Homo sapiens: one gene and its partners. The protein of the gene in region 2 interacts with the protein of the main gene of each other region in a pairwise test. Each region holds a gene or a part of one and is shown on either strand. Other genes may lie near its edges.

What was found.
Region 1: the proteins of IFITM3 (region 2) and SLC10A1 interact in binary tests that used the Homo sapiens proteins (3 or more experiments, as listed by UniProt).
Region 3: the proteins of IFITM3 (region 2) and SLC10A2 interact in binary tests that used the Homo sapiens proteins (3 or more experiments, as listed by UniProt).
Region 4: the proteins of IFITM3 (region 2) and BRI3 interact in binary tests that used the Homo sapiens proteins (3 or more experiments, as listed by UniProt).

Annotation. Positions count from the first base shown.
Region 1 is NC_000014.9:69,787,217-69,794,243, reverse strand, and holds part of SLC10A1 (hepatic sodium/bile acid cotransporter), read left to right. Parts: intron 1-7,027. UniProt on the Homo sapiens protein: As a major transporter of conjugated bile salts from plasma into the hepatocyte, it plays a key role in the enterohepatic circulation of bile salts necessary for the solubilization and absorption of dietary fat and fat-soluble vitamins.
Region 2 is NC_000011.10:319,149-325,434, reverse strand, and holds IFITM3 (interferon-induced transmembrane protein 3), read left to right. Parts: upstream 1-4,574; 5' UTR 4,575-4,621; coding exon 4,622-4,870; intron 4,871-5,444; coding exon 5,445-5,597; 3' UTR 5,598-5,759; downstream 5,760-6,286.
Region 3 is NC_000013.11:103,049,399-103,056,425, reverse strand, and holds part of SLC10A2 (ileal sodium/bile acid cotransporter), read left to right. Parts: intron 1-3,717; coding exon 3,718-3,806; intron 3,807-4,993; coding exon 4,994-5,169; intron 5,170-6,979; coding exon 6,980-7,027. UniProt on the Homo sapiens protein: Plays a critical role in the sodium-dependent reabsorption of bile acids from the lumen of the small intestine. Transports various bile acids, unconjugated or conjugated, such as cholate and taurocholate.
Region 4 is NC_000007.14:98,277,054-98,284,704, reverse strand, and holds the start of BRI3 (membrane protein BRI3), read right to left. Parts: upstream 3,020-7,651; 5' UTR 2,910-3,019; coding exon 2,768-2,909; coding exon of another isoform or gene 2,728-2,767; intron 2,355-2,727; coding exon 2,252-2,354; intron 1-2,251. UniProt on the Homo sapiens protein: Participates in tumor necrosis factor-alpha (TNF)-induced cell death. May be a target of Wnt/beta-catenin signaling in the liver.

The DNA of each region.
Region 1 (7,027 bases), on a different chromosome or scaffold from region 2:
TCAGCAACTCATTCCATTTTTTTAAATGTGCAAACCAAACAATACATGTCAAAGGGCCAGCTGTAGCCCAAAGGCCCCAGTTTGAGATAAGCACAATACTCTACATCCCATTTAGAACTGGAAGGAATTGTAAGACACAGATCCCATTTTACACATGAAGAGGCTGAGGTCAGAGACTTGCCAGAGGTTTCCCAGAGTTTGTGGGAAACTGTGTCTCCCTCCACTCACTCTGCCTCATAGGTGGAGTCAGTCTGGGGACAGCCTGCCATCCCAGGAGGCCAGGCCACCAAGCAGACCCCTCAATGCAGCCAGGGACGGCAGCTCCCTCCTCAAGGAAGGCCACTAGACAAGTTTCAAAAAATGTAGGTGACAAACAGGCAAGAGAAAACGCCCTCACAGTTGAAGTGAGTATGGCTTGTCAGGCACAGAGAAGAGAGTGCTATGCCAGCAGGAACTGGCCTCTTTTGACCATCCTTGCTGCCCCAAGTTCATCTGCTCCCCCTGCCACCATCGGACTCACAGCAGAGCCCAGAGCCAATGGCCATGGGGACAATGGGCTTGGACACAACCCAAGCACTTCCACAGGTCTCCCAGCCATGATGTAGGAAGCTCAACCAGGACAAGATGGAAGCCACTGGGGTCCCAGAAGTTTTCCACTTCATAGAGACTGTGTTGAGGCCCCTCACAGCTCCCTCAGCTTCTGCCTCCAATCTGTGCATTGACGGACACTCGAACGAGTCCCTTAAATGGGGTACACAGATGTCCAAAAGCAAGGTCTATGCTGTGCTCTTGGAACTTAAGCAGGAGGGAAAAATAAAAAAAACAAATGTGCCCCTTTCCCCCTGAAAGGCAACCAGGCCTACAATCTCAGGAATCTAGAGTCTGAAAAAGTCCTTGCCCGTCCCTGTCCCTTGGGGTAAACCAAGGATCACAACAGTCACGGATGCCAGCAGGCTAGGAGATGGATGTCCCTGACCTGACCCCAGGACCTGTGCAAGTGGAGGAAGTACCTGGGGATCAGGGAACATGGCTCCTGCATACCCAAGCTGACAAGGCACACCAAGTCCAAACTCCAAAACTCCTGACACACAAGCCAAAGTAAGCATGATTCCTCTGCTCTAGGTCACCAGAACAAACACACAAGTTGTGTTTGGCTTTTCCCTAAGAGAAGATCAACAGTAGCATTGAAACCCCCTGTATTCCTATTCCCAATCTCATTACCCTCCACCACTTGCCAAAGGGAGCATCCCTGGGAATTTGGTGTTCAGCATTTCCACCGACCCTTTTCAACTATTATATACGTATATATTCATAAACAAGATAGACTGCGGGATTTACGTCTTTTAATTTTGTACGAACAGTATTATACTGTCCACATCACCTAACAGCTTGCTTTTTTTTTTTTTTTTTGAGAAATAGGCATGTAAAGAAAATAGCTACCTCATGTATCTGAACTGCTGTGCAGTTTGCTTGCATTTATCCATTCTCCTGTTGTCAGATTCATGTGGATTTTACGTCTCGCTTCTGTGAACAGACTTGTGTGTGTCCCTCTGCCCACATGAGGGCATATGCAATTGAAGCAGGACTGCTGGGTCGTGGGAGTCACACATCTTTAAGAGGTCTCCAAGGTCATTGTTCACTTCACACGTTCCCTAGCAGTGTCTGAAGATCCCTGTTTCTCTGTGCCTTCATCTATATTTGGAATTGTCAGACTTTTTAATTTTTTCCAAATGAAAACAGTGAAGCAGATCGCAGTAGTTTTAAATTTGATTTCATGGGAGGCCTACCACATTTCCACGTGTGCGTTGGCCATTCATGTGTCCTCTTCTGGAAACATTGGGTCCTTTGCCTGTTTTTCTATGGGATTGTGGTTTGGGTGGGTTTTGAAAATTAATTTCTAAAGTTATTGTTTTATATATGTTGCAACAGTCTATTCACAGTTTGGAGCTGGTCTTTACACTTTGATAATAATGTCTGATAGATTGCTTATGTTAATTTAGTCAAATTTGCCAATATTTTTCCTTTGTGGTTTATGTTTTTTAGGGGTTTCTTTAAGAAATCTTTTACTATCTACAAGCCTGTCCAACATGGCAAAACCCCGTCTCTACTAAAAAATACAAAAAAATTAGCTGGGCATGGTGATGTGCACCTGTAATCCCAGCTACTCAGGAGGCTGAGGCATGAGAATCACTTGAACCCAGGAGGCAGAGGTTGCAGTGAGCCAAAATCATGCCACTGCACTCCAGCCTGGGCGACAGAGCAACACCCTGTCTCAAAAAAAAAAAAAAAATTTACTGTCTACAAAGTTACAAAGATATTACCCTGTATTTTCTTTGAAAAGTTTTAAATGTTTGATTTTCACATGGAGAGCTCCAATCAATGTAGAACTTATTTTTATGTATGGCATGAACTAATTTTATCTTTTCCATACAAATAGAAGATTCCAAGCCACGTTGAGTGAATTTTTCTCCAGGTATTTGTAATGACATCTCTCTCATAAATGCAGGGCTTGTGTCTGGATCTCTCTTCTCTTCTACGGGTCTATGTGGCTACCCTTGTACCAGTTCCACACTTTCTTAATTACAATTTTATAAGTTTTGTTATCTGAAAGTTAAGTCCCCCTACTTTGTTCTTGAAAATCATGGGCCGGGCACAGTGGCTCACGCCTGTAATCCCAGCACTTTGGGAGGTCAAGGCTGGCCGATCACGAGGTCAGGAGATCGAAACCATCCTGGCTAACACGGTGAAACCCCGTCTCTCCTAAAAATACAAAAAATTAGCTGGGCGTGGTGGCGGGCGCCTGTAGTCCCAGCTACTTGAGAGGCTGAGGCAGGAGAATGGCGTGAACCCGGGAGGCAGAGCTTGCAGTGAGCCAAGATCACACCACTGCACTCCAACCTGGGTGACAGAGCGAGACTCTGTCTCAAAAAAAAAAAAAATCATGTTAGCTATTCTTAGCCTTTTACTCTTTCACTTGAGTTTCAGTATCACCTTTCAAGTCTACAAAAAAAATTATAAGTCTGGAAGTTTTATTAAATGTGCATTACATTTATATATAAATTGAGAGACTATCTTTATAATATTGAATCTTCCCATCTATAAATATGATATAGCTTTTCTTTTACTTAGGCCTTTTTTAATACCTTTCTATAAAGGTTTGTAATTTCTTTCATAAAGATCTTACATGTCCTTTAGATGTATAAGTATTTTCTAGTTTTGTGAATATCATAAATGGTGTCTTTTAAAATATATATATATTTGTTTCTAGTATATCAGACCCAATTGATTGACTGACTGATGCTAATGTATTTAGAACCTCATACATTTTCTTACTTACCAGTTATAATGGAAAATTACTTAGATTTCTTCTGTGGACAATCCTATCATTGGCAAAACAAGAAAGTTTCATTTCTTCTTTTCCCATCCCTATACTTTTTCTATTTCTTGTTTTGCTGTGCTTACTAGGGCCTATATATAGTATAATTTATAAAACAGGTAATAATAATGACTATCTTTGCTTTATTCCTCTTGTTAAAGAAAATCCCTCTATTTACCATTAAGTTTAACGTTTAATATACTTTTTCTAATAGATTTCCTTTCAAGTTAAGGAATTTTCATTCCGTTGCTAGTGTACTAAATTTTTATTATGTAAGAACATTAAATTTTGTTGACTTTTCTATAGCTACAAAATTGTACCATTTCTTTAATAATATAGTAATATGTATTAATAGATTATCTAATGTTAAATCATTCTTACTCATCTTGTTCATTGTATTTTTTAAAACACTTATTTGCTAATATTTTATTATTTTTGTTTCTATGTTCATAAATAAGAGTGGTCCCCAATTTTCTTTTCTCGTAATATCATTCTCCAGCTTTCGTTCCAAGATCATATTAACTTTATACAATAAATTAGGGCATGTTTCCCCTTTTTATATTATCTGGACAGATTTGCATAATATTGCAACAATCTGCACTTTGCATGTTTAGTAGAACACTACCGTAAGACAGTATAAATCATGTAGGGTTCTAGAAGATAGGTTTTGAACTGCTTATTAAATGTCTTAAATGATTCTAAGTTGAATCAGGTTTTCGGCTTCATATTGACTTGGTTTTGTAGGTTATATTTCCCATGAAATTGTCCATTTAAGTTAAAAATGAAAGTATGAAAATGTCCTTAATGACTTTTTAAAATCTTCATTTTCTCTGTAGTTATGTTCCCTTTTTCACACTAACCTCATCAATTTGTGCCATCTCTCTTTTCCCTGGTCTGCCTTGCCAGAGGTGCCTATTTAATTGGCCTTTAAAAAAAAAAAGAAAAAAAAAAAACCCTATTTTTGGTTTTACTGATTCTAACAATTTACAAAACTTAAAAAATTTCTTCCTTTTCTTTTTATTGGGTTTTTCTCATTCTAACCTCTTAAGGTGCTTAACTCATTAATTTTTAATCTTCTTTTTCAATATAAATATGTTAGGCTATAAATTGCCCTTTAATAATTGCTTTATTTGCTCCCTGCATGGTTTTTAATTACTATTTATTGAGATATAATTCACATACCATAAAATCCATTCTTTAAATTGTACGATGCCTTGGTTTTTAGCATAATTCCAAGCCTGTGAACCTATCACCATTATCTAATTTCAGAACATTTTCAATACCCCAAAAAGGAACTCCATCCCATTTAGCAGGAGTCCCCATTTCTCTCTCCTGCTCCAACCCTTGACAACCACTAATCTTTCTGTCTCTATGGATTTCACATAAATGGAAGCATTCAATATGTGACCTTTTGTATCTATACTTCTTTCACTTAGCATATTTTCAAGGTTCATTCATGTGATAGCATGTCACAATACTTCATTTGTTTTTGTAATTGAATAATATCCCATTGTATGGATATAATACATTTTGCTCATCCATTCATTCAGCTGATGGACACATGGGTTGTTTCTACTTGTTCCCTAGTATGAATAATGTCTATGGAAGCTCACAGGCAAGTTTTTGTGTGAACATGCTTTCTGTTCCCTTGGGATATATACCTAAGAGTAGAATTGCTGGGTTATATGGTGACTCTGTGTTTAAATTTTCTAGAAACTGCCAAACTATTTTCCAAAGCACCATTTTACTTCCCACCACCAGTGTATGAGGATTCCTAATTTTCCATATACCCTCCAACACTTGTTATTGTCCAGCTTTTTAATTATAGCCATGCTAGTAGATATAAAGTGGTATCTCAAAGTGGTTTTGATTTGCATTTTCCTAATAAGTAATGATGTTGAGCATCTTTTCATGTGCTCATTAGCCATTTGTATATCTTCTTTGGGAAAATATCTCATTCAAATCCTTGGCCCATTTTTTACTTGTTTTTTATTATTGCATTATAAGAGTTCTTCATATATTGGCCGGGCGCGGTGGCTCACGCCTGTAATCCCAGCACTTTGGGAGGCCCAGGCGGGTGGATCACGAGGTCAGGAGATCGAGACTATCCTGGCTAACACGGTGAAACCCCATCTCTACTAAAAATACAAAAAAAATTAGCCGGGCGTGGTGGCAGGCGCCTGTAGTCCCAGCTACTCGGGAGGCTGAGACAGAAGAATAGCGTGAACCCAGGAGGCGGAGCTTGCAGTGAGCCGAGACTGCGCCACTGCACTCCAGCCTGGGCGACAGAGCAAGACTCCATCTCAAAAAAAAAAAAAAAGAGTTCTTCATATATATTCTGAATATTAGACCCTTATCAGATATATGACTTGCAAATATTTCCTCCCATTCTCTTGTTGGCTTTTCACTTTCTTGATGGTGTCCTTTGAATCACAAGTTTTTAATATTAATGAAGTCTGACTTGCCTTTTTCTTTGGCTGTTCGTGCTTTAGATGTCTAAGAAACCATTGCCTAATCCAAAGTCCCCTCTCCATGTTTTTTAAATATGTATTTTATTATTTTTATATTCTAAATACTGTTTCCACCATGATTTCATATTTGATGATATAATTAGAAAGTTCCCCTCCCCTCATCCCATGATCCTTTTATTGGTTGCTCAGTTTCAATGCTCCTCCCATCCCAGGTCTAATACCTCAATTCTGGTCCCTTCCTTGGGCATTAAAGCCTCCACAGTGCCAAGACTAACACCCCACTCCCCTCCAGAACCCCTCTATGAAGCTTCAGCTTGAGTTCCCCCACTACTTTGCATTTGTTTCTTGTCCGTGGGCACCTTTTTTTTTAGTGGAGTGGCGCTAACATAGCTCACTGTAACCTCAACCTTCTGGGCTCAAGCCATCCTCCTGCCTCAGCCTCCCAAGTAGCTGGGACTCCTGGTGCACACCACCACACCTGGCTAATTTTTGTGTGTGGTTTTTGGTTTGTTTGTTCATTTGTTTGTGTGTAGAGACAGGGGTCTTACTTTGTTGCCCAGGCTGGTCTCAAACTCCTGGCTTCAAGCAATCCTCCCTCCTCGGCCTCCCTAAATGCTGGAATTATAGGCATGAGCCACTATGCCACACTTAAATTGAGTGTTAATTTCTTACAAGCTCAAGTGTGTATTTAAGTGTTCACGGGGGTGGGGGAGTTCCTATTACCTAGTTCACAATTTTCTTTGAGGGACTCTTCTCACCTCTAACAGCTCTTATCCTTATGACATGCCTACCTATTGTTCTTGATGGCTACGCTCTGGAACCTTTGATATAGGCTGCTCTTCATGCATATTTAAGCCATATTCCATCTTTATAGAAATAATGAAAGAAGTGTAGATGGAGGGTAGGGCTGTGGGGAGGAGGAGGGACACACTGAGTGTGGTTTTCCTAAGATCTTGCCAAGCCCTCACCTCCCAACCATCTTCCCACTGGAATAAAAGTCAGAGCCATATATTGTTAATGTAAATGTCCATAAATCTAAGGAGATGCCCTATCAGCTTCCTTCTCAGTTGACCTTTCTGGAGGGCCTCTCCCTAGACAGGGTCCTGGGACTAACATATATAAGATTCCAAATGGAAAAGGAAATTGGACAAGTAGGATACATATTAGAGCTGGAAGGACA
Region 2 (6,286 bases):
GCACCCGTTACTTAGCCGACCGTGAAAGGGAGTCTCCTTTCCTTGGAGGAGTCAGGGAACACTCTGCTCCGCCAGCTTCTTGTGGGAGGCTGGATATTCTCCAGGCCTGGCCTGCAGTCATCCGGAGGCCTAACCCCCTCCCTGTGGTGCTTGAATGATCACACTCCTTGTCCACTTTCATGCTCTTCCCGTACTCCTGGTTCCTCTTTGAAGTTCGTAGTAGATAGCGGTAGAAGAAATAGTGAAAGTCTTAAAGTCTTTGATTGTTCTTATAAGTGCATAGAAGAAAACGCTGACGTATGCTGCCTTCTCTCTCTGCTCGGCTACCTAAGAGGGAAAGGCCCCCTGTCCTATGATCACGTGACTTGCTTCACCTTATCAATTACTTGGACGACTCACCGTCCGTACCCTGCCCCCTTGTCTTGTATTCAATAAATATCAGCGCAGCCAGCCGTTCGGAGCCACTAGCGGTCTCCATGTCTTGGTGGTAGTGGTCCCCTGGGCCCAGCTGTTTTCTCTTTATCTGTTTGTCTTGTGTCTTTATTTCTTACGATCTCTTGTCTCTGCACACGGGGAGAACACCCGCTAAGCCCCCGTAGGGCTGGACCCTACACAGGAAGTCCCCTTCATTGCTGTGTGGACGTGGTAGATAAAGTGTTCTCAAGCTGGAAAGATTTAACAGATTGGCCCCTCGGGGACCTGGACATTGAATATTTTACTGATGGAAGCAGTTTCGTACTAAGGGGAGTCTGCCGAGCTGGGTATGCCGCGGTGACTTTGGACTCAGCAGTAGAGGTACCGTCTCTGTCTGCAGAAACTTCTGCTTAGAAAGCAGAGCTAATAGCTCTGACAAGAGCTCTCTGGCTAGGAAAAGAGCAGAAGGCAAGTATTTACACAGATTCCAAATATGCTTCTGCCACTTTGCATGTTCATGAGGCTGTTTACAAAGAATAAAAGACTTTTAACGGCTGGAAGTGAAAAAACAAAGTATAAGGAGGAAATTCCACCTCTGTTAAACGCTGTGTGGGCCCTGGAAGAGGTGGCAGTGATGCGCTGCAGGAGGCCCCGAAAAGCAGCAAAGCAGAAAGGCAGACGAAGAGGCAAACGGGCTGCAACGACAACTCCACCTTCTAGAGAGGAAGCCTTAGCTATGCCTCCCGCTCCCGGAGATTCCCCTCCTGGGGATCCCAAGGTCCCCTCCAAACGAAAAGTCTTGGTTTGCCCACAAGAATAAGAACTACATTGAAGAAAGATGGTAAAAATTTTCCAACGGGAGGCTAGCCATACCTGGAATGGTGGCCCTCAGATTTGTAAAACAGTTCCACTGGAAAAAAAACCCAAAAAACCAGCACTAAAGACGTTATTAAGGCATCATTTCTTTTTTTTTTTTTTTTGAGACAGAGTCTCGCTCTATCCCCCAGGCTGGAGTGCTGTGGCGTGATCTCGGCTCACTGCAAGCTCCGCCTCCCAGGTTCACGCCATTCTCCTGCCTCAGCCTCCCATGTAGCTGGGACCACAGGTGCCCGCCACCACACCCGGCTAATTTTTTTTGTATTTTTAGTAGAGACGGGGTTTCACGTGTTAGTCTCGATCTCCCGACCTTGTGATCCGCCCACCTCGGCCTCCCAAAGTGCTGGGATTACAGGCGTGAGCCACCGCGCCTGGCCCTGTTAAGGCATCATTTCTATGTGCCATGGCTCACTGCTATTACTCGAGCCATTTGTAAACAAATGGTGTTAAATTCGTGCTCAGAACAATGCATGACAAGGGCCTACTCGGCCCCCAGGAGTTCAGGAAACAGGAGCCAGGCAGCCATACCCTGTGAAAAACTGTGGTACGGACTTCGAGGAAGTACCCTGAGAGGGGGGTTATCAGTGCACGTGGGTGTTCATTTGCACCTTTTCAGGAGGTTGAGGCCTTCCCCACCCGGACAGAGAAGGCACTAGAAGTAACCAAGGTGTTGTTAAGAGACATTATTCCCAGATTTGGACTGCCTCTAACTCTAAGATCAGACAATAGCCCAATATTTATGGCTGAAATAGTTCAGGACTTAACTTGATTATTAAAAATAAAGTGGAAATTACATACAGCTTACAGGCTGCAGAGCTCAGGTAAAGTGGAATGCATGAACTGGACACTCAAGCAGCTGCTAAAGAAATTTTGTCAAGAGCTGGGCGCGGTGGCTCACGCCTGTAATCCCAGCCCTTTGGGAGGCCGAGGCGGGCGGATCATGAGGTCAGGAGATCGAGACCATCCTGGCTAACACGTGAAACCCCGTCTCTACTACAAACACAAAAAGTCAGCCGGGTGTGGTGGCAGACGCCTGTAGTCCCAGCTACTCAGGAGGCTGAGGCAGGAGAATGGCGTGAACCTGGGAGGCGGAGCTTGCAGTGAGCCGAGATCGTGCCACTGCACTCCAGCCTGGGCGACAGAGCAAGACTCCGACTCAAAAAAATAAATAAATAAAATAAATAATAACAATAAAAGGCCTCAGAGGGGAAGGGAATGAGGCAGGAAATTAAATAAAATTAAAATTAAAAAGAAAGAGAAATAGGTTTTCCTGTATCAGGCTGACTCGTCCCGGAGGCAGCAGCAGACACAGCTGAGACCCAGGAAAAGTCCTGATAATATTATCTAATGTGCTCTGAGACTCTCCCAGCACTCCCTTAACACAGGGAGAAGAAAAAACAAATTTTCCTTTGTTTTTGGAATGAGTTTATAGATTCCTGTTCTCTGTAACTAGTGACTTCAAGTATTCTGTTTTATCTAAGAAGTACAGTGAAGGTCATGAGACGCCTGAGCAGGCCTGAACGCCAGCTGCCTGGGCACCATAGTGAAGGTAATGGGATAATCCAGCTGCCTGGGCACCATAGTGAAGGTAATGGGATAATCCAGCTGCCTGGGCACCACAGTGAGGGTTATGGGATAATCCAGCTGCCTGGGCACCACACTGAAGGTAATGGGATAATCCGGCTGCCTGGGCACCACAGTGAGGGTTATGGGATAATCCAGCTGCCTGGGCACCATAGTGAAGGTAATGGGATAATCCAGCTGCCTGGGCACCACAGTGAGGGTTATGGGATAATCCAGCTGCCTGGGCACCACACTGAAGGTAATGGGATAATCCGGCTGCCTGGGCACCACACTGAAGGTAATGGGATAATCCGGCTGCCTGGGCACCACAGTGAGGGTTATGGGATAATCCAGCTGCCTGGGCACCATAGTGAAGGTAATGGGATAATCCAGCTGCCTGGGCACCACAGTGAGGGTTATGGGATAATCCAGCTGCCTGGGCACCACACTGAAGGTAATGGGATAATCCGGCTGCCTGGGCACCACACTGAAGGTAATGGGATAATCCGGCTGCCTGGGCACCACAGTGAGGGTTATGGGATAATCCAGCTGCCTGGGCACCATAGTGAAGGTAATGGGATAATCCAGCTGCCTGGGCACCACACTGAAGGTAATGGGATAATCCGGCTGCCTGGGCACCACACTGAAGGTAATGGGATAATCCGGCTGCCTGGGCACCACAGTGAGGGTTATGGGATAATCCAGCTGCCTGGGCACCATAGTGAAGGTAATGGGATAATCCAGCTGCCTGGGCACCACAGTGAGGGTTATGGGATAATCCAGCTGCCTGGGCACCACACTGAAGGTAATGGGATAATCCGGCTGCCTGGGCACCACACTGAAGGTAATGGGATAATCCGGCTGCCTGGGCACCACAGTGAGGGTTATGGGATAATCCAGCTGCCTGGGCACCATAGTGAAGGTAATGGGATAATCCGGCTGCCTGGGCACCACAGTGAGGGTTATGGGATAATCCAGCTGCCTGGGCACCATAGTGAAGGTAATGGGATAATCCAGCTGCCTGGGCACCATAGTGAAGGTAATGGGATAATCCAGCTGCCTGGGCACCATAGTGAAGGTAATGGGATAATCCAGCTGCCTGGGCACCATAGTGAAGGTAATGGGATAATCCAGCTGCCTGGGCACCATAGTGAAGGTAATGGGATAATCCAGCTGCCTGGGCACCATAGTGAAGGTAATGGGATAATCCAGCTGCCTGGGCACCACAGTGAGGGTTATGGGAGACGGGGTTTCACCGTGTCAGCCAGGATGGTCTCGATCTCCTGACCTCATGATCCTCCCACCTCAGCCTCCCAAAGTGCTGGGATTACAGGCGTGAGCCGCGGCGCCCGGCAGAGGTGAGGGCTTTGGGGGAACGGTTGTGGGGCCTGGAGTGTGGAGGCGTCAGCGCAGGCCTGGCAGGAGCCCTGAACCGGGACAGTGGGGTCCTGCAGCTGCTGGCCTGGGGTGTGGAGACCCCCAACACAGGGGAAGTCTCCAGGACCCCACACCACTAACAAGATGAGCCTTGTGCTCCCTTGGGCTCTAGAGAGGAAGCCCCTCTTAGCCCTCAGCCCCTCTTTCCTCCCTCTCCTAAAGTAATTTGATCCTCAGGAATTTGTTCCGCCCTCATCTGGCCCCGGCCAAATCCCGATTTGACAAATGCCAGGAAAAGGAAACTGTTGAGAAACCGAAACTACTGGGGAAAGGGAGGGCTCACTGAGAACCATCCCAGTAACCCGACCGCCGCTGGTCTTCGCTGGACACCATGAATCACACTGTCCAAACCTTCTTCTCTCCTGTCAACAGTGGCCAGCCCCCCAACTATGAGATGCTCAAGGAGGAGCACGAGGTGGCTGTGCTGGGGGCGCCCCACAACCCTGCTCCCCCGACGTCCACCGTGATCCACATCCGCAGCGAGACCTCCGTGCCCGACCATGTCGTCTGGTCCCTGTTCAACACCCTCTTCATGAACCCCTGCTGCCTGGGCTTCATAGCATTCGCCTACTCCGTGAAGGTGCGTATGGCCCCAGGGAATGCTCAGAGGGTGCCGCTGAGCCTGGAGCTCCACCTGCCCACATGCTGCCTGGGGTGGGGACTTGTGTGTCCCTGTGACTGTGAGTTTGTGTGCACCTCTGTCCCGTGTGTGCCCACGTCAGTGGCTTTGTCTGTGTGATCTGTGTGTGTGTGTGGCTTGGGGAATCTGCCCAGTGCAGGTTTAGGAGGAGGCTCCAGGAGGCTGGCTGGCTGGCTCAGAGTCTGTCCCCGGCTATCCACTAGCCCAGAGCAGTTCTCCCTATAGCCCAGTAAGAAATTACACCTTCACCTTCCAGACTGGCACCCAGGCTCTCCCAGAAAGTGAGAAGGGAACTCACAGGTGACTTCACCCCATGGTGGGGAGAACAGCCTGTGCTGAGGTCAAGGCAGAAGGAGGATGAGCCCCGAGGCTCCTGGAGAGTCTGAGCCCGGGTGAGGAAGGGGAGGAGGTGGTCCCTGATCTCAGGGCGGGGAGAGCCAATGAGGAGACGGAGCCATAGCACGCGGCTCTCAGCTGGGGGATCCTGGTCCCCTCACCATCTCCTCTCCCCCAGTCTAGGGACAGGAAGATGGTTGGCGACGTGACCGGGGCCCAGGCCTATGCCTCCACCGCCAAGTGCCTGAACATCTGGGCCCTGATTCTGGGCATCCTCATGACCATTCTGCTCATCGTCATCCCAGTGCTGATCTTCCAGGCCTATGGATAGATCAGGAGGCATCACTGAGGCCAGGAGCTCTGCCCATGACCTGTATCCCACGTACTCCAACTTCCATTCCTCGCCCTGCCCCCGGAGCCGAGTCCTGTATCAGCCCTTTATCCTCACACGCTTTTCTACAATGGCATTCAATAAAGTGCACGTGTTTCTGGTGCTGCTGCGACTTCACCTGGGGAGGGGTCTGGCTGAGGGTTCGGAGCGTGGTTCTGAGACTGAGCAGGTTGGTCAGCCCCTGCACTGCCCCTTCCGGCCTCTGTGCATCTCTTGGGGACCGGGCAAGTGCTCAGGCCTTCTGGTTTCGGGCCTCCTGCCGTGAGCAGCAGCTGGATCCAGGACCCTGGGAGGAGTTCCTGTGTCCTGCAGGTCTCAGCTCCTACTCAACGTGGGCTCTTTCCGGGAACGTCAGTGCTGAGTCCGGGACACCCTGGGCCCAAGGCCACGCTCGCGGCCTGTCGGCAATCCAGGCTGTCGGCTCAGGACAGAGGGAAGGGTTAAGCCCCCAGCAGGGCCAGGGAGGGGCAAGGTGGCACCGGCTCCCCAGCTGCTCCCAGGCCCTGCTCTGTGGTGCTGGGGACCTGGCTTTAGTTCCTCGGGGTGGAGGGGGCACCGCGCTGCCTGCCTCCGAGCTGTCTGGAGCAGCCAGTCCTGCAGATGTGGGCAGCTCAGGGCCCGTGGGAGGG
Region 3 (7,027 bases), on a different chromosome or scaffold from region 2:
ATAAATTTTGAAATAAGGAGAAAATGAAAAATCAATTAGCACTTCAATGGAGGAAAAGGTCATCATAAGAGGTCAAGAGTGAAAAGAAAAGAAAAATAGGAAAAGAGAAAAGAAAACGGAAAAAGAGAGAAGTTTGAAAAACAAAGATATTGTTATATGTAAAATATTTATTCAGAAACAGAATACTTGTTCCTCAGTACCACAAGGAAAAATGAGCATTCAGACAAAAAGTTTTCTCAGCAAGGCAATTTTACTTTCTGCAGAAAGAGTGCTCCTCACAGATGGCACAATGGTGACAGCACACCTGAACAATGGAGGGAAGTAATTCGTATCCCTTATGCAGCTTGTCCCTGCTACTGTGTCCTGTCTCCATTGGCTGGAGCCAGACATCACAATCTAAGCTAAAACCTGACTGGCTAATAATTTAAAACTTTTCTAAATAGGTATAGGCAATAGACAACAAAGGAAAAGAGGACGTTGCTTGTGAAAGGACTTAGAAAAGTAATAATATTTCCAAATAAGGAAGGGGCATAGGCTGCAAGCTGGAATGTACCTGTGAGCATGTTCAGCATAAATATCTTGGTTAAAGTACAAGGACATAGAATGTACTTATTCCTTTATATCTAACAGCTACATAGAATAGGGCTTAACAAAGAGTTACTAGCACAAAGTAAGGGGGCTTGAAGAAAGTTAGTCTTTAAAAGAAATTATTATTTCTAATGTTTATTATTATTATTATTTTCCTTTAACAACAAGGGACACTTTGAAGAGGAAACTTTTTACTTTCTACAGATATTAACCCTGCTCACCATGTTTGCCCAGGCCTCCAAGCTCACCTTTTTGCTGTTGGTTTTTCTAGTTCTTTAACATAGAAAATAAATGAACTGACTGCTTCACAAGATGTTATCACTGCTTTCTAAATTGTGGCTCAGGGTGATTATTTGCCCAAGGTCACCAGGAAGCTGGAATAGCCCACAGTCTATTCTCTACACAGCTCTATGGGCAGACGTGTTTGGTACAACTTCATGCTCCAGTGATTCAGTAAACACCTGTGAGCCCCCTCAGATGCTGACATCTGGATCGAGAGGAGGCAGACCATGCAGCTGGTACCACTAAAATAAAACCACTGCTGCAAATTGTTGTACTTACTCCTCTCTACCCCACATTTTTAAGTGTCTTGTGCCAAGAAGTTTATAGCCATTTCATCATTTAATTCTCACAACAGCACTGTAAGGCAGACATAACTCCACCCATTTTACAAATGAGGAAACAAAAGCTCAGAGGGGTTCAATGATTTGCACAGTTCCCACAGTTTGGGAATACAGAAAGGTTCAGTTCCAAATCTATCTGGCTCCCAGTCCCACCACATGAATCCATTCACCACCACTCTCTTTCATTCTCATTCTTCTTTCTACCTTTCTTTCCTCTGATATCTACTGTGTAAACTTGATTAAAGACCAAGTTATGGATTCAATGTGTAACCATGAGTGGATGCTTTTTCATCTACATAGACAGGCACTTTACAGAGAGAACATGGGCATATGAGGCATACGTAAAACAAACAGAGCATGGGGAAAGAAAAGAGCAAGATCACCAGCCCACTGGAGACCAAAGTTACAACATCCACCTCTACAAGCAGAAGCCACACACTGTGGGTGTAAAGAAAGACAGAGTCCCTTTCCCAGTCAACCCCAGGTCCCTGAAAAACTTCATCTGGCCTCATCTGGTCAGGAAAGAAAAGCAATTCTGCCATGGATTTCAGCAGGTGGTGCTGCTTATGTGTTATCCCGTTGGCTTGGGCTGCCTCAAAAAGATGAATACTCTTAGCAGGAGGGGCCAAACAGATTCAGCACATTAAAATATAGGACCAAAACCTAACCACACTAACATTCCAAGCACAGGACTTGCAGCTAGATTTAAGCTACCACATCACAAACAAGTCATATATCCAGATGGTTTTAAGACCTACAAACTTCAAAAACTTAGGCAATGGTCTAAAGACCCAGGAGAGGGAGTTTCCTTCTTGTATTCATCTGTTCTCTCATTGCTATAAAGAATTACCTGAGACTGGATAATTTATAAAGAAAAGAAGTTTAGTTGGCTCACAGTTCCACAGACTGTACAGGAAGCATGGCAGGGGAGGCCTCAGGAAACGTACAATCATGGCAGAAGGGGAAGGGGAAGCAGGCAGCTTCTACATGGCTGGAGCAGAGGAAGAGAGCAAAGAAGGAGGTGTGCACACTTATAGACAACCAGATCACATGAGAACTCACTATCACAAGAACAACAAGGGGGAAGTCTGCCCCCCACAATTCAATCACCTCCCACCAGGCCCCTCCTCCAACAGACCCGTCCTTTAGTTGTAATCCTCCAACTGGGGATTATAATTCAACATGAGATATGGGTGGGGACAGAGAGCCAAACCATATCACTCCCAAAACAGCAGGATGCAAGGATACCCAAGGGGGGTTTTTCTGGGGCATCTCAGCAGTACGTGTGTCAACGCCACTCTTTCACATCTTTTTTTCCATTATTCCCTCCTTACTCCCCCTCATTTATCTTTTTTTTTCCTACTCTTAGTACCCTTAGTCATTATTTAATTCTGCTAAGTAATTTCTGGGCAAAAGTCATCACTGACCCTTATATTGCCAGGAGGGCTAGAAGACTACAAGGAAATTATGTTTTCATCATTATTGCATTCACTTTAAATTAATATCTATAGCCTTGGATTCCAGAATCTGTTTTCTAGTCCTAGTTCAATCTACCTAGTTAATCAATACTAAGCAACATCCACTCTCAGAATTTCACCGTTCAATATCACTTTCTTATACTGCTTTAAAAGGATGTTTGAAAAAGAAACAACCTATGAAAAGTTAGAAGTTGTTGGTGCTAAATTATATGAAATCAGCTATTGGACAAATGAGTGTTAAATAACATGGAGAAACAAACCACATGTCGCAAAAACAGCAGTAAATTTAACATGGTGAAATTGAAGTATGACTCTTTTATCTGGCCAGGTGAGCATGTTACTGCAAAGAACTATAATTACATGAGAGTTCGTCAAATATATTATCTCATGGAAAATTTAAAGCACGCTTTCTCAACTTTTGTTCTCACCTCTCTGCTGTAAATTTGAATAGCTAAAGCTAGTTTTAACCAAAAGTCAGATGTCAGAATACCTGGTGATCTTGAGCTAATTTTGGACATTTTCTTTCATTTTAAAATATTTTAAAATTATTTTTTATTTCTACTACCATGAACTAGCAGACAAATGTAAAATGTCATCTTTGTATGCCATACACACACACACACACACACACACACACACACACACACACACACACCTTGGTGAGCTATTTTTCCTAGAGATATAAAGATCCAAAGACTAAAGAAGCCAAGATTCTGACAAATTAAAACTAATGTATGCTGGCAAAATAAGAAACTCTAAAAAATTAATGCAGAATTTAGTGAAAGAATTTACAGCATTGATATTATCAATTATCTACCAATAATATTAAATTATTTACTGGAGTGGGTGAAGAAGTTGAGTGAGTGTGTGTGTGCATGTGTGTGTGTGTAATTCTGTATTCTGTTTTGTGTATTCAAGAAGGAAGACTGAAATACCACCTAATCTTTCTTCAGGCTGCTTGTTCTTCTGTTTTTCTCTTTCCTGTGTCACCTGTTCTGCTGATCACATTGCCCTTCTGTCATCTTTAGGTACATCTCTGGTTTCTCTCGTTGTTCCTGTTTCCATTGGAATGTTTGTTAATCACAAATGGCCCCAAAAAGCAAAGATCATACTTAAAGTAAGTATCCCAGTTCACACCATTAAATATTCCACTGTGACAATCAAAACCATAGGGTTTTCCATCCATGAAATGGTTTCATTCTCATTATATGATTACTGTTGAGTGGGGGCCTGAAGTCATTAGCCATGCAGTCTTCTCCTTTAGAATGTCCTTCTTTATATGTGTGTAGAGAGAGAGGTGGGATCTCACTATGTTGCTAATGCTGTTCTTGAACTCCTGTGCTCAAGTGATCCTTCCAAAGTGCTGGGATTACAGGTATGAGACACTGCGCCCAGCCTAGCATGCCCTTCTTTATTGCAGTCACAGGAAAAATTTCTACCCATTCTTTAAGACACTCCACTGAACTATCACCTCTTGGGTTTACTCTATTCTGTCCTCAGGGCATATTACTGTTATCTCTGTTATGTGAGTTTGTGTTATACAATATATCTAAATGGCTTTCTTAGAAAATAGAACATATCTTTCTTATGTCTGTATGCATATGGCCATTTCATTGCCTGGCAATCCCATTCACTAACTATATTCTAGCTAGATGATCTGGATATGTATGTAGATAATATAGATAGATTCTGCTGCTCGGGGCAAAGTAAGTCCATTGTATTCCTTGCTTCTCTTGACAAAAAATGTTTATAATCTCCAAATTTTGTTTTAAATGTGAAAAGGAGAAAAAAAATAACAACAGTGGTTTTCATTTGCTTATACCTTTTTTAAAGTTGTATAGAGTTCTATACCCATTTTCTCATTATCGTAACAATCATAAAGGGAAGCTGGGGCGACATTTTATCCCCAATTACAAATAAAGAAACTACAGTTCAGAAAGTTCCTGATTTACTGAAGGAAACAGAATAGGAGTAGTTGAATCTGGAAGCCAAATCTTCCAGGCTGTCATCGAAATGGGTTGTCTTTTTGTTCTGACAAGGATAATTTTCAAGTCAGAAAATCTTCAGACTAATTGCAAATGGTTGCTACATGTCCTATTGTGTTCTTAAAGCTTAAAGCATGGGACAAGCGTCAGTATTTCCAGTGGGCTGATTGCAGCCTCCTGGCTTGGAGTACATAGAAAGACAACTTTATCATCACTTCCCCCAGGGACAAGGAGACTGCTGAGGTTTTGTCTCTGACAAACATACTTGGATTTGCTTTGACTCATGATTGCTGGGTTCACTTATTCCTTTTTTTTTCAGATTGGGTCCATCGCGGGCGCCATCCTCATTGTGCTCATAGCTGTGGTTGGAGGAATATTGTACCAAAGCGCCTGGATCATTGCTCCCAAACTGTGGATTATAGGAACAATATTTCCTGTGGCGGGTTACTCCCTGGGGTTTCTTCTGGCTAGAATTGCTGGTCTACCCTGGTACAGGTATGGCATTTAGTAAATCACATTGGGAATTTTAATCTGTAATATCTGTTGTATTCCTTTGCTAGAGGTGCCATAAGACAGAACCACAAACTGAGTGGCTTAAACAACAGACACTTATTGTCTCATGGTTTCAGAGACTAGAAGTGAAAATGAAGGTGTCACTGAATTGATTCTTTCTAAGGGCTATGATGGAGGGATCCCTTACTGGCCTTCCTCGTGGCTTGCAGACATCCATCTTCTTCCTGTGTCTTTCCTCAGTGCACCTCTCTGTGGCCTGGCTCCCCTTTTGATAAGGACACCAGTCATTGGATAAGGGCCTCCTCTAATGAACTCATCTTAACTAATTATATCTGCAATGACCCTGTTCCCACATAATGTCACATCCTGAGGTGCGGAGTGTTAGGACTTCAACATATGAATTTGGGGGAAAGGGAGACATAATCAATCCATAACAGCTGCAAACACTGAAGACAGGATCAAAATCCTTAGCCCTTCATCAATCACATTCATCCTATTTCTGAATATGTCATTCTAAATAGGCCCATTCATTCTGAAGTCATGCAAGTCCCCAGAAAGAAAATACTGACTGCCTCTTTTTTGCTCAAAGTCTTCTGGACCATTCGGCTTACAAGGCAGATGGGGCTCTTCCATTGCTAAGTATTCTTATTCTCTGAGTGGAATGACATTAATGAAAGCAGTTGGGCTGCCTTGGAATAGACAAGCGTTCCTCCAGCTGGCAGCAGGGTGAGCTCATCCTCCAAAGGCGCCGAATATTAAAATGGGTTTCACACTTCTGGATTTGGTACCGGGCAAAAACAATTCTTTTTGACTAATCCATCGAATCCACAGGCAGAGAGAACACAGGTGTAGGGACAGATGCATGTATGAAGTTGGGAAAGAGAGGAGTGGGTATGGGCAGCAAGAAGAGCGCAGTGTTTGAGTCAGGCAGACCTGGGCTTGCCTTCCAATCCGACCACACACTGCCCGGGGGACCTCAGGCCCAGCATTCACTCTTTCTCTGAGTTTTATCATCTGTAGAATGGGGACAATAATTTCTACCTTATAGACTTTCTGTCAAGATTTAAACACAACAATTTTTTATTTTTATGAGACAGGGTCTCATTCTGTCGCCCAGGCTGGAGTCCAGTGGCACAATCATAGCTCACTGAAGCCTTGGCTCAAGTGATCCTCCTGCCTTAGCCTCCCGAGGAGCTGGGACTACAAGCCCACACCACCTTGCCTGGCTAATTTTTTTGTTTTGTTTTGTTGTTTTAGAAACAGGGTCTCATTATGTGGCCCAGTCTGGTCTTGAACTCCTGGACACCTGGGCTCAAGAAATCCTCCCACTTCAGCCTCCCAAAGTGCTGAGATTACTGGTGTGAGCCACCTGTTTAGCCCAGCCTAAACAAAACAAATTAAACAATAAAACAGCGACAACAAATACCATATCTTGAGCATTTTCTGAGCTGCTGCCCTGTGCTCTACACTGTTACCAAAATCATAATTGAAAAGGGTGAAATGAACCCTCTTGGCCACTTACCTAACACTGTGGTAAATGAGCCAACTCTTCATATGCACATATTAAATATATTTATTTATATTATATACAATAGGTGAGATGATGTATAATATACATTAATAAGTATTACACTTATTCCATAGAAAGTTATATATTGAATAAGCCTATCTTAAATACATGCATTAAAAGCAGAGACATAATGCATATATATGTACTTATTATTATATCTGCTTTTCATGTTTCACAATAACAAAACTACTAAAACATGTGCTCTCTTAACATCTTCTTTAGGTGCCGAACGGTTGCTTTTGAAACGGGGATGCAGAACACGCAGCTATG
Region 4 (7,651 bases), on a different chromosome or scaffold from region 2:
GGGCTTCTCTGGCCAAGCCTCACTCAGAAGGACTAACAGATGTGTGACTTGGGCAAATTCCTGCCATGCCACCAGGCAGGGAGGGGGACAGAGCCCGGCGGGCTGGACCTGGGGCAGGAGGAAGTGTGGTCATGTGAGTGGTATCCTGTCTCCCGGGCCAAGACGCCAGGCAGCGGCCAGACGTGTGTGTTGTGTGTTCAGGGAACCGTCTCCACTCTCCTCGCAGAGAGGAGTGGCCCAGGGACCACACACCCCACCCACGCCAGCAGCAGAGCACCCAGCCCCCTGCTCGCCCTCTGGCTGCCACAGGGCACAGGGGCCCATCCCATGCCCAATGCAGCTGCAGAGGCAAAGCCTCGGGGAGCCAGAGCCACTCTCCAGCATCCAAGGCACCACGGGCAGAGCGCAGGGACGTGTGTGCTGGGAGGGCCTGGCTGCAACCCAAGGGGTCGCCGCAGGATCCAAGAGTGCTCTGGTCCCAACTTAAAGGACTAAGGACCCCCCAACCTTGTCCAGAGAGGACCCAGCCTCCACCCTGCCTGGTGCAGCTGCCCAGAGGCAGAGAGCAGTGATTAAGTAACCAAGGACCCCACACCCCTACAGCCTCTGAGGGCCGAGCCCAAGATCCTTCCCAGCAGAGCACAGTCTGACCCCGCTCCAGGTTCTGCATAACTGGAGAGCACCTCCAGGTTAGCGGAAGCCATGGGCCTCCGCAGGGACACAGTTCCCACCTAGGGAAGGGGAAGTGGCAGGGCCAGTGCCCCCATACCGACAGCAACTGCGCCACCACCTCGGCGCCCCCCAGCCCTGGGATATCTGGCCCATCCCTCGCTGCCGCTGGTCTCTCACCTCTCCAAGTTCAGGGGTTTGGGCAGAGAAGAGCTAAGAGCTTCAGAGACACCTCACCAGACACCCCCACGTCCCAGGTGGGGAAACAAGCCCCGCTGTTCCTGGCAGGACCAGGACCGGAACCCGGCTCCTCCGGCAGGCTGGACACCGGGATGGCAGGGCATGGACAATGACACGCAGGCAGACCCTCTGCTCCTCCATGTTCTGAGTCCCCTCCATGTGCCTTCACACTCACACAGCTCTGCCAGCCCCCCAACCCGGTGCAGCTCCGGGAGAGAACTATGTCCCGAAGGCAGCCAGCGCCCCACCCTGCCCTCCCTCCACCTTCACTCCAAAGGCTAATGTTTCTGCTGGGTGGTGACCAACTGTGTCAAACTGACGTCCCAGTTAGGGTTTGTCACGGGGTCCCTGTGCAGGCAAGCAGCCACAACCTGCCCCCGAGGTCCCAGCCTCTTGTCCCCACCTCTAGGTTGCCCTTCCTTCCCAGGAAGTTGCCTGCTAAGGCTCTGAAATCACTCACTTCCCCGTGACTCCACTCTAGGCCTTACACACACACTTTTGAAATCAAGTCTAAGTCCAAACCAGGGTTTCTTAATTCCATCTCAGTGGCTTCAACTTCCTCCTCCGAGACACAGCTGAAAACCCTGTCCCGGCCAACTCTGCCCCTACTTTCTAAGCAATCTGAACACCCCCAGCTGCCAAGGGTTTATATTTAATTAATCCTTATTTAAATGTGAATCCTCAAAACCTCCACAAAACAAGCCTCTAGCTGCACCTCGGGGCCCTATAAAAACCAAAAAGCGTGTGCAGGTCCAATGCGAGGATATGAAAAAAATAACTCCTGCCTCAAAGAAACACGGGGTTTCCATCCTGGTCCAGCTCGTGGAAGAGCGTTTCAAGCCAACTTTGGATAAAGCAGCTCTTACGGCCGTCGCTTCTCCCACTGAGGTCTGTCCTGCTGGTGCACTTACTTCCAAATGCCCCTTCCGGGAAAATGAAACCTTCCACCACCTTCGACGATCAACTGCAGAGTAAACTTGCGGAAAGTGAAGGAAAAAGCAGACACCTGATTCCTTGCAAGTCCCAGAACAAAGACGAAAGGACCACGAGTCCCGTTGTTACCATTTCTACATCCCAATCACTTGGGGTGCAATGCCCCAAGATCTAGGAAAAGGAATCCACCCTTTTGCCCCCACAAAATGTGTTCAGAGCCAAGGGTGAGCGGACCCGCACTCTCCCACACCGCATTCGGGCAGCCTGTCTGTCCCTCCCATAAAGGGCTCTGGTCAAGATCCAAGTCAAGCCGGACCCACTCCCACAAGCAGAGCTGTGAGGTCCTGGGGGTTAGGGCGGGGGTCCTCAGAGCTTCCAGGGCCAGTCCCCAGGCTGCAGACCCACTCACCTGCAGACAGGACAGCCTCCTACGACCACGATAGAGTTGGCAGGATAGCGGGTGACGGTCCGGCTGTGGATGTTGTAGACCCTGGGATGGTGGGTGGGTATCCCTGTGGGCGGGAAAGCAGGTCATTAGGGTGCAGGGAGGAGAAATCGGACCGCCACGGGGACTACTCATCCTGTCCCCTCAACCTCCACCCCGCTAAAAAAGCCCCCGGTCTTTTCCACCCTCGGGACGGCCACCGCGGGCCTGATTCGGCGCTAATCTGCCAACAGCGAGCGCCTCGTGACACAAAGTTCATCTGGGGCAGGGATCCGGCCCCGCCGGGTTACGACGGGCCCGAGGACTAGAGCCCCGGGGGGGAGGCTGGCCCTCGGCGGCGCCGGGTCCCGAAGCCAGCCCGGGGACCTCCAGCTCCAGGAAGGACCCCCGGGCGGGCCCCACCCGCCTCCGGACCCACGTCCCCCGACCGGGCTTGCCACCTCGGAAGCCGCCGGCGGGGAAAGTTGGTTACGGGCCCACCTGTGACGAGGTAGGGGTAGGGCGGCGGCGGGGGCGCGGCGGGGATGGCGCCGTAGCCGTGCGGGCCGCACGCGTAGTCGCCCTGGCCGGCCTCCAGGTTGTAGGCGGGCGGCCGCTCCTGCAGCAGCGGCTTGTGGTCCATGGCGGCCCGGCCGCGCCCGCCGCTCCGGCCCGGCTCGGCTCGGTCGGCCCCGGCGGGGGACGCGGCGGCGGCGGCGGGGACGCGGCGGACCGGGTGGCTCGGGCCCCTCTGAGGCAGACGCGGGGCGGGGCGGGGCGGGCGCGAGCCGCGGGCTTCCCCCGCCCTCCCGGGCCCAGTCACAAGACCGGGGTCACGTGGGCGGCGGGAGGCGGGGCTCGGGGGCGGGGCCGGCGGGGCGTCTTAAAGGGGCCGCGCCCTCCCGAAGCCGCCCCGCCGGCGGCGCCTCTGCACTCCGCCCCGCCCCGCCGCCGCTGCTCTCTAGACCTCCCGTGGCGGGGAGACCCCCCCCCCCGCCCATCCCCCACGACGACCCAGAGACGCCCCATAGGGTCATGACCTTTAGGGCTCGCGGATGCACCCCCACCTCCCCCTACGCCCCGATCTCCCAGGCCGGCCGAGGTCCCCCTACCGGTGGAGGAGGGGGAGGGCGGGGCCTGAGAGGGGGCGGGGCCGGGTGGGTCCCAGGCCGCCCCAACGCCAGCCCTCTGCCCCTATGATCGCCAGCGCTTCCAGCAATACAAAGGGCACACCCGGGTGTGCACCTCAGCTGCGGCCTGCGCGGTGCTCAGCTGCGGCGCATTCCCTCCGTTTGCCTTTTTTTGGACAATTAGGTGATTGACGGGGGTAGTAGCCAGTGCTTACAAATAACTCCCCCGTTTGGGGACAAAACTATAAATACTGGGCACCTGCCGCGTCTCCTCAGTTTCCCTAATCTTCAGGCAGCCCTGCCAGGTGTTTTGCTTACCCCTGGAGGACAACACGGGATCGGGCTCAGAAGGGGGAGGGATTTGGCTGTGGCAGGTGCGGGTCAGAGCCCGTATCTAAACCTGGGTGTTTTCTGGCCTCGGGGACTGCGTCAGGCGCCCTCGTTGAAACATTTCCTCATACAAGGCTTCACGGGTTGGCCAGGACAACTTTAAAACGAACGATTGGAACGTTCAGGATTGCTTGCGTCCTTAGCGCCTCTGCACCTTTTCAGGGGCACCTGTATCCGTTACTGTATTCTGTCTCCAGTTTTCTCACCTGCATTTTGATATCACCTGCACTGTAGCTCTGGGACGACTACAGCTCTTCTCGAACCGCGCCTTTTTAATTTTTAAAAAAAAAATTTGTAGGGGGTGCTGGGGGGGCTCTCTTGCTCTGTCACCCAGGCTGCAGTAGAGTGACACAGTCATTGCTCAATGCAGTCTCGACCTCCTGGGCCCAAGCCATCCTCCCACCTCAGCCTCCTCAGTAGCTGGGGACCACAGGCACACGCCACCATGCCCAGCTAATTTTTAAAAATTTTTGTATGGGATCTTGCTATGTGCCCAGGCCAGTCTCAAACTGCTGGCCTCAACCAATCCTTTTGCATCAGCCTCCCAAAGTGCTGGAATTACAGATGTCAGCCCCTGCACCCGGCCTTATTTTTATTTTTTAATAAGGGATCATCATTCACATGTATATATACACACACATACATATATATATATATATATATATATATATCTTTTTTTTTTTTTTTTTTAACAGAGTCTCACTCTGTGGCCCAGGCTGGAGTGCAGTGATGCAACCCTGGCTCACTGCAACGTCGACCTCCGGGGCTCAAGTGATCCTCCCATCTCAGCTTCCTAAGTAGCTGGGGACTACAGGTGCACGCCACAGTGCCCAGCTAATTTTTTTTTATATTTTGTAGAGATGGGGTGTTGCTATGTTTCCCAGGCTGGTCTCAAACTCCTGGGCTCAAGTGATCCTCCTCACTCAGCCTCACAAGGTGCTGGGATTATAGGCATGAGCCACCAAGCCCACCTGACCATCATATTTCTTTATCACAAGACCAGCTCTTCGAAGCCCATTCCCATCGATCTTGTACCTGCTGTCCTAGTCATCGTACCCACAGTCCTCGAAAAAGGAACTGAGGGGTGGTCCAGGTACACTAGGGAACTGAGGGGTGGCCCCTGGCACTGATGAACAGCCAGATCAAGAGTGAAGACTGGGCCGGGCGTGGTGGCTCATGCCTGTAATCCCAGCACTTTGGGAGGGTGAGGTGGGTGGATCACTTGAGGTCAGGAGTTCGAGACCAGCTGGCCAACATGGTGAAACCCCGTCTCTACTAAAAATACAAAAATTGGCTGGCCATGGTGGGGGGTACCTGTAATCCCAGCTACTCTGGAGGCTGAGGCACGAGGATCACATGAACCTGGGAGGCGGAGGTTACAGTGAGCCAAGATCGTGCCATTGCACTCCAGCCTGGATGACAGAGTGAGATTCCATCTCAAAAAAAAAAAAAAAAAAAAGAGTGGAGACTGGCCAGGAGTGGCCAAGGGCTTTGGAGCCAGTAGAGGCTCTGGTAGGCAGTGAGGAGGCCATTGTTCCTGGGGGCAGCTGTCCGGGCACCACAGGGTGACAGCCCCTGGCCAGAGAATACTGGGGTGCAGCCTCGTGCCTCATCAACCATGAAGAGATGTGGCTCACGTCAACCCTCCTAACACTTGGTCAACAGGGGCCACCTGGATTCTCCTCCCAGCCTTGCAAACTGCTGAGGAGTAGCAGCTGCAGGCCCGGTGATCTCCTTTCCTATCAGATCAACAAAAGCTGGCACATTTCCCTTCCATTTCATGGCTAATTGTCCCTTCACTGCTTGCCTGCATTTCCTGATAAACCCTACAAAATCCACAGCTCCTGGTCCCCTTCTCTTCCAACAATTGTTTTTGCCCCAGCAATGCCCCTGGGTTTGGAACTCCAAGTCTGTGAATGCTGGGGTGTGACTTTGGGATGTCCCGGCATGGCTTTGACCAGTGCTGCCCTCAGACACAAAGCAGTTCCTGCCCCTCCAAACGTGCAGTGTGCGGAAGATGGAACTGCTATCCCGGGCTCTGTGTGCAAGCCCTGGGGGGCCAAAGAGGACGATGACAGGGACACAAGTAGCAGACAGGGAGCCAGATAGTAACTGTGGTGGAGGGAGCTTTGTATGGCAAGAGGGTTGGAGTTGCCACACACAGGGTGGTGATGAGCCTGGGTGCCTGGAGAGTTCCAGGGCCACAGCCTGGCTTGGAAGGCCAGTGGCGAGTCAGCCCCAGGGACCAGTGGCAGAGCATTCCAGGCAGAGTGAACTGCAATCCCAAAGAGTATACAGTGGCCCATTATATGCCAGGACTTGTCACTTGGTGTGGCCAGAGCCCTGGAAGAGTCTCTAGAAGGCAGAGGTGGGGCTGGCCAGGGGAGGCGGTGCCGGGCATTGGAGTTGGGATAGCATCCTGTAAGAGCCTATTGGGGAACTGCGTAGAGTTTGAACAGGGGAGTGTGAGCATCGGATTTCAGTATTAGAAAAATGTCTTTGAAGGGAGGGGCACAGTAGCTCACACCTGTCATCCCAGCACTTTTGGAGGCCAAGGTGGGAGGATCACTACAGGCCAGGAGTTCGAGACCAGCATGAGCATCATAGCGAGACCCCCCCCAGCCCCCCGCCCATCTCTACAGAAAATTTAAAAATTAACCGAATGTGGTGGCACGTGCCTGTAGTCCCAGCTACTCGGGAGGCTGAGGCACGAGAATCACTTAAACCCAGGAGACAGGTTGCAGTGAGCCAAGATTGTGCCATTGCACTCCAGCCTGGCGACAGAGCGAGACCCTGCCTCAAAAAAAAAAAAAGGAAACTGAAGCACAGAGGGCCTCCATACGTTTCCAAAGCCTCCCAACCAGTAGAGGTGGGTCTTCAAACAACAGATGTACCACACTTAATCCTAGGATCACCCCACACTGCCTCCATGCCAAGTATACAAGAGAAGTATGCCGCCTCTTGCTGGATTTTTTGTTTGGTTTGGTTTTGGTTTGTTTTTTTGTTTGTTTGTTTTTTGAGATGGAGTTTTGCTGTCATTGCCCCGGCTGGAGTGCAGTTGCACGATCTCGGCTCACCAGGCTCACCTCCTGGGTTCAAGCGATTCTCCTGCCTCAGCCTCCCGAGTAGCTGGGATTACAGGCATGTGCCACCACACCCAGCTAATTTTTTCATATCTTTAGTAGAGATGGGGTTTCTCCATGTTGGTTAAGCTGGTCTCGAGCCCCCAACCACAGGTGATCCGCCTGCCTCGGCCTCCCAAAGTGCTGGGATTATAGGTGTGAGCCACCATGCCCGGCCTCTTGTTGGTTTTAAGAGAAATGCATTCCTATTGAAGAAGACTTGGAATACATAAATATGCATATGTTTCGGATTTCCGAAATTCTGCTACAGAGCAGAATACAAAATACAAAATACAGAATACAGAATACAAATACAAAAGTGGATACAGTCCACTTTTGGATTTCTTTCTTGTTTTTTTTTAGAGACAGGGTCTTGCTCTGCTTGCCTGGCTGGAGTGCAGTGGTGCATTCATAGCTCACTGCAGCCTCAACCTCCCGGGCTCAGTGACCTCCCACCTCAGCCTCCCCAAGTAGCTGGGGCTACAGGTGTGCCATCACCACACCTGGCTAATTTTTTTAATTTTTTTTGAGATGGGGTCTCCCTCTGTTGCCCAGGCTGGTCTTGAATTCCTAGCCTCAAGCGATCCTCCTACCTTGGCCTCCCAGAGTGCTGGGATTACTGGAGTGAGCCATTGCGCCCGGCCTTTTATCCACTTTTGTATTATGCAGACATTTATTTTTATTTTTATTTTTTTGAGACAGAGTCTTACTCTGTCACCCAGGCTGGAATGCAGCAGCATGAT